2 separate regions of the Homo sapiens genome follow, and region 2 is linked to region 1. A link means that fine-mapping ties the variant in region 1 to the expression of a gene that starts in the linked region. Tissue or cell type: whole blood. Region 1 holds a variant in brackets; the other region holds the start of a gene. All regions are shown on one strand. Distances are from middle to middle. Region 1 overlaps GRAMD2B (GRAM domain containing 2B). Region 2 holds the start of GRAMD2B (GRAM domain containing 2B).

The links. PIP is the estimated chance that this variant, and not a neighbour inherited with it, causes the effect.
Region 2: GRAMD2B starts here. The variant in region 1 is fine-mapped to the expression of GRAMD2B in whole blood (INTERVAL, PIP 0.91).

Annotation. Positions count from the first base shown.
Region 1 is chr5:126,461,435-126,466,813 of GRCh38, forward strand. GRAMD2B (GRAM domain containing 2B) reads left to right here. Exons shown (of 14, transcript NM_023927.4): 2 at 3,992-4,111. Among named protein-coding and RNA genes, the nearest start is that of GRAMD2B, 41 kb to the left of the region's middle. The variant T/C (reference allele first, on the strand shown) is at 2,247.
Region 2 is chr5:126,421,152-126,426,530 of GRCh38, forward strand. It overlaps GRAMD2B (GRAM domain containing 2B), which reads left to right and starts at 2,258. Exons shown (of 14, transcript NM_023927.4): 1 at 2,258-2,538. The coding sequence starts at 2,456. RefSeq lists a silencer at 2,233-2,362.

The DNA of each region.
Region 1 (5,379 bases):
TATGTATAAATTGTGTAACAGTGTGTGGCAGTGTTTTATTGAAACAAGATTGTCCTAGCCAGTAATAAAAATGCTGTTCCCTGGCTGGGCATGGTGGTTTATGCTTTGTAATCCCAGCACTTTGGGAGGCCGAAGCAGGTGGATCACTTGAGGCCAGGAGTTCGAGACCAGCCTGGCCAACACAGCGAAACCCCGTCTCTACTAAAAATACAAAAATTAGCCAGACATGGTGGCAGGCACCTGTAATCCCAGCTACACGGGAGGCTGAGGCAGGAGAATCACTTGAACCTGGGAGGTGGAGGCTGTAGTGAGCAGAGATCACGCCATTGCACTCCAGCCTGGGTGACAAGAGTGAAACTCCATCTCAAAAAAATAAATAAATAAAAATAAAAATGCTCTCCCCTAATAGGTGAAGTCAGGTTTAGTTGTTATAAGCATGACTGTCTCACTGCTTTGAAATTTCTACTAAAAGCCTTTCAGGCAGGGACCATAACTGATGCTTAAAGTGGGTTGGAGATGGGAGGAGAAATAACCTGCCAAGGCCAAGTAAAGGTTGGTCCTGTGTCTCCAGCATTTTCTACTGCTTCTGTGGATACTTACACCTGCCAGCTCACTTACCTGTCTCATCTACAAAGCTCTGAGCACCCTGACAACAGGGACAAGTCCAGTAAATATTTGTTGAAAAAGGAGGATTGGTTTTTTGGTTTGTTTTTTCAGTTGACTCTTTTAGTCAAAGTCCGTAACAGGGCTTTGTCTTCTGGTTAAAAAATAAATAAAAACTGATTTCCTTATTTTCATGATTTAAATGAAACCTGTTCAGCTTCGTTGACCGTAACTTTAAAGTTACTAAGTGGCCTGGTTCAGCTTCATTGACAGTAACTTAAAAGTTTCCAAAAGGCCTTGAGGAAGCATTCCATTTCCCCTCCCACGCTGCTCACTCAAACACACGCTAGCCTCTGCTGCTTGAATTCTACATAGTTTCAGTCTGCTGCTGACAAGACCTCCAAGGTAAGGGACGCTTGCAGGAATAATCTTGCCTGTGTGAGGAATTAACTTGCTTGAGCCTGTAGCATCTTTAAGCAAAAACCTAAGATCAAATTGACTCGTAGATGAATTTCACTTCCTCTTTGAGATACTACATAATTAATCCATATCATTGAACGTATAAATGACCACTGTGAGCAAATGCTGAGCTGAGTGCTGTGGAAAAAAACCAGACATTCCCTGCCTTTAAGGAACTTGGTTTAGTGCTGGATAACTAAGATTTTTGGGAGAAAAGGTACCAGTACAAGGTATTAATTAATTAGATGCCTAGTGAGTTATAAAATCAGCAGGCAGCATAGAGACTTTTAAGCAGTGTGGAGGATGTGTCCCCTGGCTAGGGCCTTCAAGGAGAGAACCAGTGCTGAAGACAAGACACAAGTTGAAGGAGAAGTGAAGTGGAGAGTATGTAGAAAAAAGCTACTTTGAGTACACTGTATGTTCCATCCTTGAAAGACATTGTTTTAGTAGGACAATATAGAGGCATGCACTGTAATCTTTTCAGTGCTAAGCTAGGGGTCCCGAAACAGGACCACCTTATGTGGTTAAGCACTTAAGTCACCTGCACTGCACACAAATGCCTGACCAAGATGGGTCAGGGTCAAAGAGGAGCTGAAATCTAGCCTCAGTTTTGCTGCCTTCTGACCTTGGTGCTGGGCTGTTTCTGCCAAGAGCAAGAAGCACCTTATCTCTGCCAGGAGCACCTTTTGCAGAGTGGCTCTCTGTACACAAAGATGCTGTATAGGACAGCTCCAGCTCTCCCTCTAAGTCTTCATCTGATCCTGCATAAAATCCAGTAAATATCTGAATAAATGTTGAGATGGATTATTGAAGTTCTATACCCAGTCTCTACTTAAAGAGGGCTTCTCAAGTAGATTTCTGCCTGAATCTGTTGAAGAAAAGAGATAATGTGTTTGTGTCTTGGGGGAAGCGAAAAAAGGCAGAGATGTGCTTTAAGGCCTCTTAACTATTCTAAAATTCTTTGAGTCCACAAATTAAACTTGGTGCTAAGTTTAATAAAGTCCAATTATTATTTTAAACCAAAACAGGGTTTTCCTAATAATATTTCAATGCCTCAGCCTTCCATGTACCTTTGTCACATAATGCAATTCTGTTATGGACTGAGCCCTTTTAATGTATGTAACTGTTTTAAGTACTTGGAGAAAAATTGAAGAAATAGAAGGTTGGACCTCTGTCCTCAGATA[T/C]GTATCTACTAGGAAAAGAGAAATGCTTACCACAAAATTAAGAGCGTCAACCATTTGGCCGGGTGCAGTGGCTCACGCCTGTAATCCCAGCACTTTGGGAGGCCAAGGTGGGCAGATCACCTGAGGTCAGGAGTTCGAGACCAGCCTGGCCAACATGGCAAAACCCCGTCTCTACTAAAAATACAAAAATTAGCCAGGCATGGTGGCGTGCGCCTGTAATCCCAGCTACTTGGGAGGCTGAGGCAGGAGAATCTTGAGGAAGGAGAATCTCTAGGAGGCAGTGGTTGCAGTGAGCCGAGATCGTGCCACTGCACTCCAGCCTGGGCAACCAGAGTGAAACTCCATCTCAAAAAAAAAAAAAAGAGCATCAACCATCTGTGGGTGTTATTAGTTAGATACCCTTGTCAGATATACTGGCCTTGATTCTGACACTACAATAGGACTCCTCGCCTAGGCTGCAATTTTCATATGCTGTGAAAAGTGATCAGCAAAGCAACCACACAGCTTAAACTATCCAGTGGCATTTCCTGCCTGCACAGTCATATGCAGGTGAGACTACCAAATAGGTGGTAAATGAAAGTGAAGATTAGCTAATCTCTCATAGCAATGCCATCTTAACATGTCTTTCTTTAGGCTCAGTCTCCATGGAGTCCTCACATCCTCAGAAGTATCGTTTGTGTTTTACTGAGCTGACACACCAAAGAAGTTCTGATCCATAAATAACATTTTGTATTCTTCCTTCAACATCCCTTCCTTTCCCACTTTCCCATTGGAAGTGGTTTCCCCTGCTTCCCAAGAGATCTTCACCGGCCGACTGAGGGAACTCACCTCTGCATCCCCCAAGCTGGTTGTCCTCTGTTTGTTGGTTCTATGCACAAACCTTCTTGACTCACCTTCCCCTCTACTCCCTTCCACCTTCTCTTTTACCAAGGTCAGACCTAGTTTTTCCAACGCCTATTGATCATGACTGTAAGTCAACACTATCCTAGACCCCGTGGTTAAGACAAAGATGAGTAAGATTCCCACTCTGCCCTGGAGCTCTCACACTGAAGAGTTAATTATGAGGATAAATGGATGAGTAGGTGGTTGGGGGGATGAATGGAGAGAGAGAACACAAAGGTTTTGCAGACAGACATACTAAGTTTGAATCTCAAGTAAGATAGATGCTAGCTCTCTGAACTTAGGCAAGATAGCAAGAGCCTCAGATTCCTCATCTGTAAAATGAGGGTAGTAATTCCTACCTAGTCTGGGTGGTTGTAAAGATTAGAGACTGTAAATTGCTTAGGGAACTGCTTGGTTAAACAACATGTAAGTGACATAAGAGAAATGCAAACAAAAGGGGTGGGGGTTCCCAGCAGGAAGGCTCACACCTGCAGGAGGCCACACGTGAGCGTGTGTACATGTGCGTGTGTGCTTGTGCAGGGCGCTCCCAGCCTCCAGGTGATCTGCTGCCCCAGCACAGCCCATGCAGAGCAGAGCTGGGCAGCACAGACCTGGGAGCCAGCAAGTCCACACAGTCTGGCATTTACAAGTGAAACAGGTGCGACCTGCAGCTACTGCCGTTGGGACACCAGGCAAGGGGTTAGAATGGAGATTGGGAAAGGGCCTCGCTGTCAAAGTTAACTAGCCTATCAGTGAGGAATGAAAATCATTCCATTCTCTAGAAAACCATGTTACTTCATCGTTTTCCTTCCAGCTACCTCTCTCTGAATGTCTAAAGTGAAGCGGTTTCCTTTCTTCTTCAGCTCAGAGGCTGAGAATGGTGTGGAGGAGAAAAAGAAAGCCTGCAGGTCGCCAACAGCCCAATCCCCTACCCCATCTGTGGAGGCGGACTCCCCAGACCAGAAGAAAATCATTAGCCTATGGTAAGTCCTCCGTTGACTCTCTTTGTTCTCTTTTGTCTTTTGGGGAGAAGGCGTTACAGGAGGAGCAGGGGTTTTTTGTTAAGAGTGAGGATGTATTAATACTATAGACAAATAATACTCCTGAGAAAGAATGAGCATTTTTCCCTGATACCCAGGTAGCATCTTTTTCTCCCTCCTGCCCCAGCCTTCAGCAGAGCATCTGCACCTTTCTGAAAGCGCTGATTTTGCTAAGTGATGAGGCCAGGGTGGACCCCTCTCTGGCATATGTTTAGAAAGCTGGGAAGGCTGGCCAGGTTGGAGTGTCTGCCCGGCCTTGGGTGTGCACACCTGGTGTCTCACTTTCCTAGGGGCCGTGAAAAAAAGCCGAGGAAAAGAATCCCCATCCCGGGGACCCACCAGGCCACCAGTTTCCTGTGACAGACTAAGAGGGAGGGTTGGTTTGGTTGTGGGGCCGGAGGGGAGAGGTGGTTTTGAGATGTGTAGCTGTAGCCTCATCTTTCTCAGAGGCACCAACTACCATTTGGTAGAGACTAAAGTTGGTAGAGACTAAAGTTGCTTTGGGGCACTTAAAAGATAGCGGTTAAACCAACAGTGTGTGATGGGTGAGTGCAGTTTATCTAAACTGAGTACAGAAATCATTGTGGTCCTTCACCATTATTAGAACTTTGAGAACTGCTACCTTCTACTTCTTTTGGTCTTTGCTAAAAGATTATTAACTCCGCTTTTTGCTTCCTTCCTGGCTTCCCAGCCCATATCTTCTCTCCAAATCTATGCTTCATTCAGGACCAAGAGTAAGTCTTAACTCCTCCCGAAATTTTCCTCTTCTGACTCTAATTCCCAATTATCTCTCCATCTTTCCTGCATGCTGTTTTGTGGCATCTCACCTTTTTTTTTTTTCCAGTCGGAGTCTCGCTCTGTCATCCAGGCTGGAGTGCAGTGGCACATTCTCAGCTCACAGCAACCTCCGCCTCCCAGGTTCAAGCGATTCTCCTCCCTCAGCCACCCTGGTAGCTGGGCCTACAGGCATGCACCACCATGCCCACCTAATTTTTGTACTTTTAGCAGAGACAGGGTTTCACCATGTTGACCAGGTTGGTCTTGAACTCCTGACCTCAGGTGATCCACCGGCCTTGGCCTCCCAAAGGGCCAGCATCTCACTTTAACAATTTTTTTTCCTCTAGTTGTTTCCCCTCAAAGCCTCACCTAATGCTTCTCTTCACAAAGGCACAAGGCACATTATTTCTCATGTCTTTTACCACTGTTGGCTG
Region 2 (5,379 bases), 40 kb before region 1:
TTTTGGGTACAGATAAGTGGTGATAGTTAAATAACATTGTGAAAGTGTTGAATGCCACTGAATTATACACTTATTAAAATGATAAATAGTAATGTTATGTATATTTTACCACAATAAATAAATTACTTAGCGGGGAAAAGTCAGTCTGATCTGAGCTCTGTAATGAGAAGTTGGAGTGCACCTGAGATCTGAGAGTCCTCATCCAGAGTTTGGGAAATTGACAACCTCATCTCTGTTCCAAACCTATCCCTATTCTGAGGAGGGTGGGGATCTAGAGGTGAAGGCATCAGGAATGTCCCCAGGAAGAGGCAACTATGGGCACCAAGGAGACAGCCTTCAAGCTTTCAGGTCACCCAGAGTTTTCCCCATCCCACCTAGCACAGCTCCTATAGCAAAGCAGTCAGTGGTCAGGAAAGAAAAAGAGAGAGAGGCCTGACTAAGCCAACTCTTCTGGAATTTATGTAAGCTTTTTCTTTTACTTATTTTTCAAATGTCACAAACATCAATTTTGGAGCAAGCAGGCTACAAAAAGATGCTTTTGTTCTCTCAGCCTAATGATATATATGTAAAAAGAGAAGGAATAAGAAAACTTTGGAAAGAACTTGCACCTCCAAAATGTTTGAAGTTATTTAGAAGGTTAGGTGTTTTACACACACATACACCCTACAAACTACATACATACATGTACATACTATGGTTGTATAGTCTTTGTAATACTCTTAAATCTAAACTTTATTTTAAGAGAAAAATGAAGGACTTGCAGCCCCAGAACATAGTTAGTCGTTTTTTCCCAGGCATGTCATGCTCTACTGTTGCCACTTGTAATTGTTTTGAAGTCAAGTCAGGCTTCCAATAATAACGTTTATATTAATTATTCTAATTGTCAACTACTCCATTGCAAATTAGAAAACCACCAATACAAATGTCATTTGCTATAACAAGTCAATGTTTATACAAGCTTGCCCAACCTGCAGCCCAGAACAGCTGTGAATATAGCCCAATACAAATTCATAAACTGTCTTATAACATGGTGACATTTATGCACGGATTTTTTTTTTTTTTTTGAGACAGGGTCTCACTCTGTTGCCCAGACTGGAGTGCAGTGGTGCATCTTGGCCCACCACAACCTCCATCTCCCAGGCTCAAGTGATTCTCCTGCCTCAGCCTCCCAAATAGCTGGGATTACAAGCGCCTGCGCCACCTCACCCAGCTAATTTTTGTATTTTTAGTAGAGATGGGGTTTCACTAGGTTGGCCATGCTAGTCTCGAACTCCTGACCTCAAATGATCCACCCGCCTCGGCCTCCCAAACTGCTGGGATTACAGGCGTAAGCCACCGTGCCTGGCCCCTGCACAGACCTTTTTTAAAGCTCATCATCTATCCTTAGTGTTAGTATATTTTATGTGTGGCCCAAGACAGTTCGTCTTCTTCCAATGTGACCCAGGGAAGCCAAAAGATTGGACACCCCTGATTGAGAACAATGCCTGGAACTTTGTAGCTCTCAAAAGTTTGTTCAATGAATGAATGAGTGAATGCTTCCAATACAAAACCTTAGAACAGGCAAGTCAAAATGTCACCAAAAGGTGGGAAGAAGAGGCATTCACGGTACTGGTTGAGTGCATAGTAAATAAGGTACTTGCACAACTATGGGCAACAAAGAGACGGCTTGGGAATTATCAAACACCAATTTTGATTTTGATGAGAACAGTCATAACCCAATATTTGAAGATTTTGATGGTTGCTTCTTCTTTGCCCCTCTAACCACCCCCCCCACCCCAGAACGATGAAGGGTTAACCAAAACACCACCAAAGGCAACTACTTATTACCTTTGTTATTCCCACATAAAAAATTGAGCAGACCTATTGTTTAAGCAGAAGAGGCAGTCCCTCAATGAAGCAATATCCTGTTTGAATAATTTAGGATGGGGCATAGGCCAGCCCACACAGCGCATTTGTGTGACAGGGCGTCCCACTCAGACGTCTCCATTTCCGGTATCTAGAGCCGGCTGCCCTCTAAAAATCCCCCTGTTACAGTCGGGATAGAAAACAAAAAGCTTAATTTACCAGGAGGCTAAACAGATTGTGCCTTCTTAGGCAAATGTTCCACCTGCTTGGCCAATTAGCTTCCTCTCCCGAAAGACTCGTTCAACAGGTTTCCTTTTTCTCTTCTCTGCCTCCTGGGTTGGGGAAAGAGGCTGTCACTTCGCTTCGACCCTCCCCTTCCCTCCCTCTCGGCTTTTCCACAGTGGGTCGGACCAATCGCGCCCGCTCCGACGTGTCCAGGTCCGCGGCCCCGGGAGCTTGGCGCGGCCCGGCCTGGATGCGCTGGGCGGAGGGTGCAGGGGAGGGCACGGCGCCGCTTGCTTGGCCTGCGCACCCGGACCTAGAAGCCGGGACGAGCCGGGGCAGAGCCAGGCGCGCGGAAGTCTGAAGGTGCCCTCCAGACACGGCCCCGATGACTGAACTACAGCAAGATGTGGAAGACACAAAGCCTGCGAAAGTGCTCGGGAAGAGGGAGAGCAAACTTGGCTCAGCCCAGTGAGTATTCTCAGCTGGGACCCATCCAAGGAGGTGGGAGGAGCGCAGCCTAAACTTCTCTGCCCCGGGACGCATTTTGGGTGGATGCGGATTTCTGGAGCTCCTATATGGACAATCTTGTGGCGCGCTCTCTCTGTCTCTCACTCTCTCTCTCTGTCTAGATATTCAGTTAAGGAGATGGTTTAGATTGATTGAAAAGTCTACTGTAGGATTTAAACAAATTCTCTTAATTCAAAACTCACTGGATGTTGGGAAAATAATTTTGTAGAAAATAAGCCTAACCACATTGAAGCTCAAAGTCCCAACACAGCCCTTCGTTTAGAATGACCATTTTCACAAATTCATTTTAGTTCAGCAAATAATTGAGTATCTACTTGTTCAATAACGATGGGCAATACAAGGATAAATGTTATTTTGGATCTGCCCTTCTGGAACTTCAAGAGCAGAGTGGGGATGGGGGAGGCACAAATGAATATTACTGTACTTCAAGGGACTTTGGTGACCATTGCCACATTAAACACACAGACAAGGTATGATAAAGAGTTTAGCCTATAATTGAGTCTTCTCTACTTTTAAAATATTTATCTATTTTGCAGTCTTTGGTAAAATTGGTTTGGGAGGAGAGGTTGTTTTTTTCCTACAAAGTGGTATTTTCTAAGCCTACTGAAGTCACTTCTAATTCAGTCTATGATTTTAGACACTAACCCTTCTGAGCTCTAAAACTCTTGTTCTGGTATCAGGATATGAGTAATTTAGGAAGGAGGGATATGTATTATCATAAGGTTATACTGATGTGATAATTCCACTTTGAAATCATTTTAAGTTGCCAAATTTTTGTGCTTAGAAACCCGGTCTAACTTCTGTTTTGAACTTCATAACTTACATTAATTATCACTAGGCTCAAAGTCTTGTTGAAGTCTGGGTGTCCCCATGGACATTTCTTCTAAGAGGATTAGAATGACTTGCTCCTCACAATTTCCCTGCGTCTGTAACTGCACCCATGTAGACCTCATCACCTAGAGCCTTAGCCTCCTAAATAATAGTAGCTGGCACTTACTGAGAATGCTTACTATGTGACAGGGAGTGTGCTCAATACTTTAAATGCATTCTCACAAAGAATGAGGCAGGTGCTATTATTTCCATGTTGCAGATAAAAGCACTGAAGCTCTGAGAAGCTAAGCAGCTAGGCAGAGTCACAAAGTTAATAAAAGAGCAGCCAGGATTCAAGCCCAGGTCTCCTAACTTTACAGCATGAACTTAGAACCACTATGCTGTACACTGGTTCCTCTGTTCCAGAATCTATGATGGCCTTCCATGGCCTACTCTTAAAAATAGGCTTCTCTGCCAAGATTTTAAGATCCTTCATGATCTGGACCCACACAGACCATTGCAACCTCACTTCCTAATACTAGTCAGCATGCACATCTTTTATAGCCAAACAATCATACTAGCAGCCCTATACTTAAAGGAGTGATATGCAGCACTCCCATGTTCATTGCACATTACTCACAATAGCCAAGATATGAAATCAACCTAAGTGTCCATCAACAGATGAATGGATAAGAAAATGTGCTATATACACAAGATACGAAATCAATCTAAGTGTCTATCAATGGATAAAGGGATAAGAAAATGTGGTATATATACACAATATTATTCAGCCTTTAAAAAGAAAGATCATTTGTGACATGGATGAACCTAGAGGACGTATGTTAGACAAAATAAGCCAGGAATAGAAAAACAAACACTGCATGTTCTCACTTAAGTGTGACATCTGAAAAAGTTGACTCAGGCCAGGCAGGGACTGTGGCTCATGCCCATAATCCCAACACTTTGGGAGGCCGAGGCTGGAGGATCACTTGAGCCCAGGAATTTAAAACCAGCCTGGGCAACAAAGTGAGACCCTGTCTCTACAGACAAAAAAAAATAAGTTAAGCATGATGGCGCACACCTGTGGTCCCAGCTGCTCGGGAGGCTGAGGTGGGAGAATCTCTTGAGCCCAGGCAGTTGAGGCTACAGTGAGCCATGTTCATGCCACTACATTCCAGCCTGGACACAGAGTGAGACCCTGTCTCAAAACTAAAATTTAATTTAATTTAAAAATAAATTTAGAAGTTGGATTCATAGAAATAGAGAGTAGAATGGTGGTTTCCAGGCGCTGGAAGGTAGAAAGGGTGGGGAAGGAGGGAATAGGGAGTTGATCAGAGGGTACGAAGTTTCAGTTAGGAGGAATAAGTTTTGAGTTCTATTGCACAGCAAGGAGATTAGTGAATAATAATATGTTGTATATTTCAATATAACTAAGAGTAAATTTCAAATGTCTCACCATAAAAAATGATAGGTAAGCAAGACCATAGGTATGTTGCTTGATTTAATCATGCCACATTGTATACATATACCAAAACATTACCCTGTACCCCATAAATGTAAACAATTATGATTTGTCAATTAAAAATAATATTAATTTTAAAATAATTTAAAAATATATTTCTTATAAAATTCAAAAAAAGAAGTGATATGCAGAAGGAATAAGGAACTGGTATGCCAAACATAGGAGCAAATGAATCCCCTTCTGTCTTCACTTTTCCTTACTGCTATTCCTTTCCCCTCTCTCCTCTCTCTTCATCTACTTCTAGAAATCAACTCAAGTTTTCCTTCATGTGAAGCCTTCCTTCATTACTGGCCATACTCATCTCTTCTTTACCAGTGCTCACCTTGTACATATGTGGCTTCCGCCTCATAGAATTTATCTGCTGTTATTATGACGATTAATTAACAATTAATGTTTATTGACAGTTTAGTTTGTACAAAGTACTGTTTCAAGTTGTTAACATATATTAA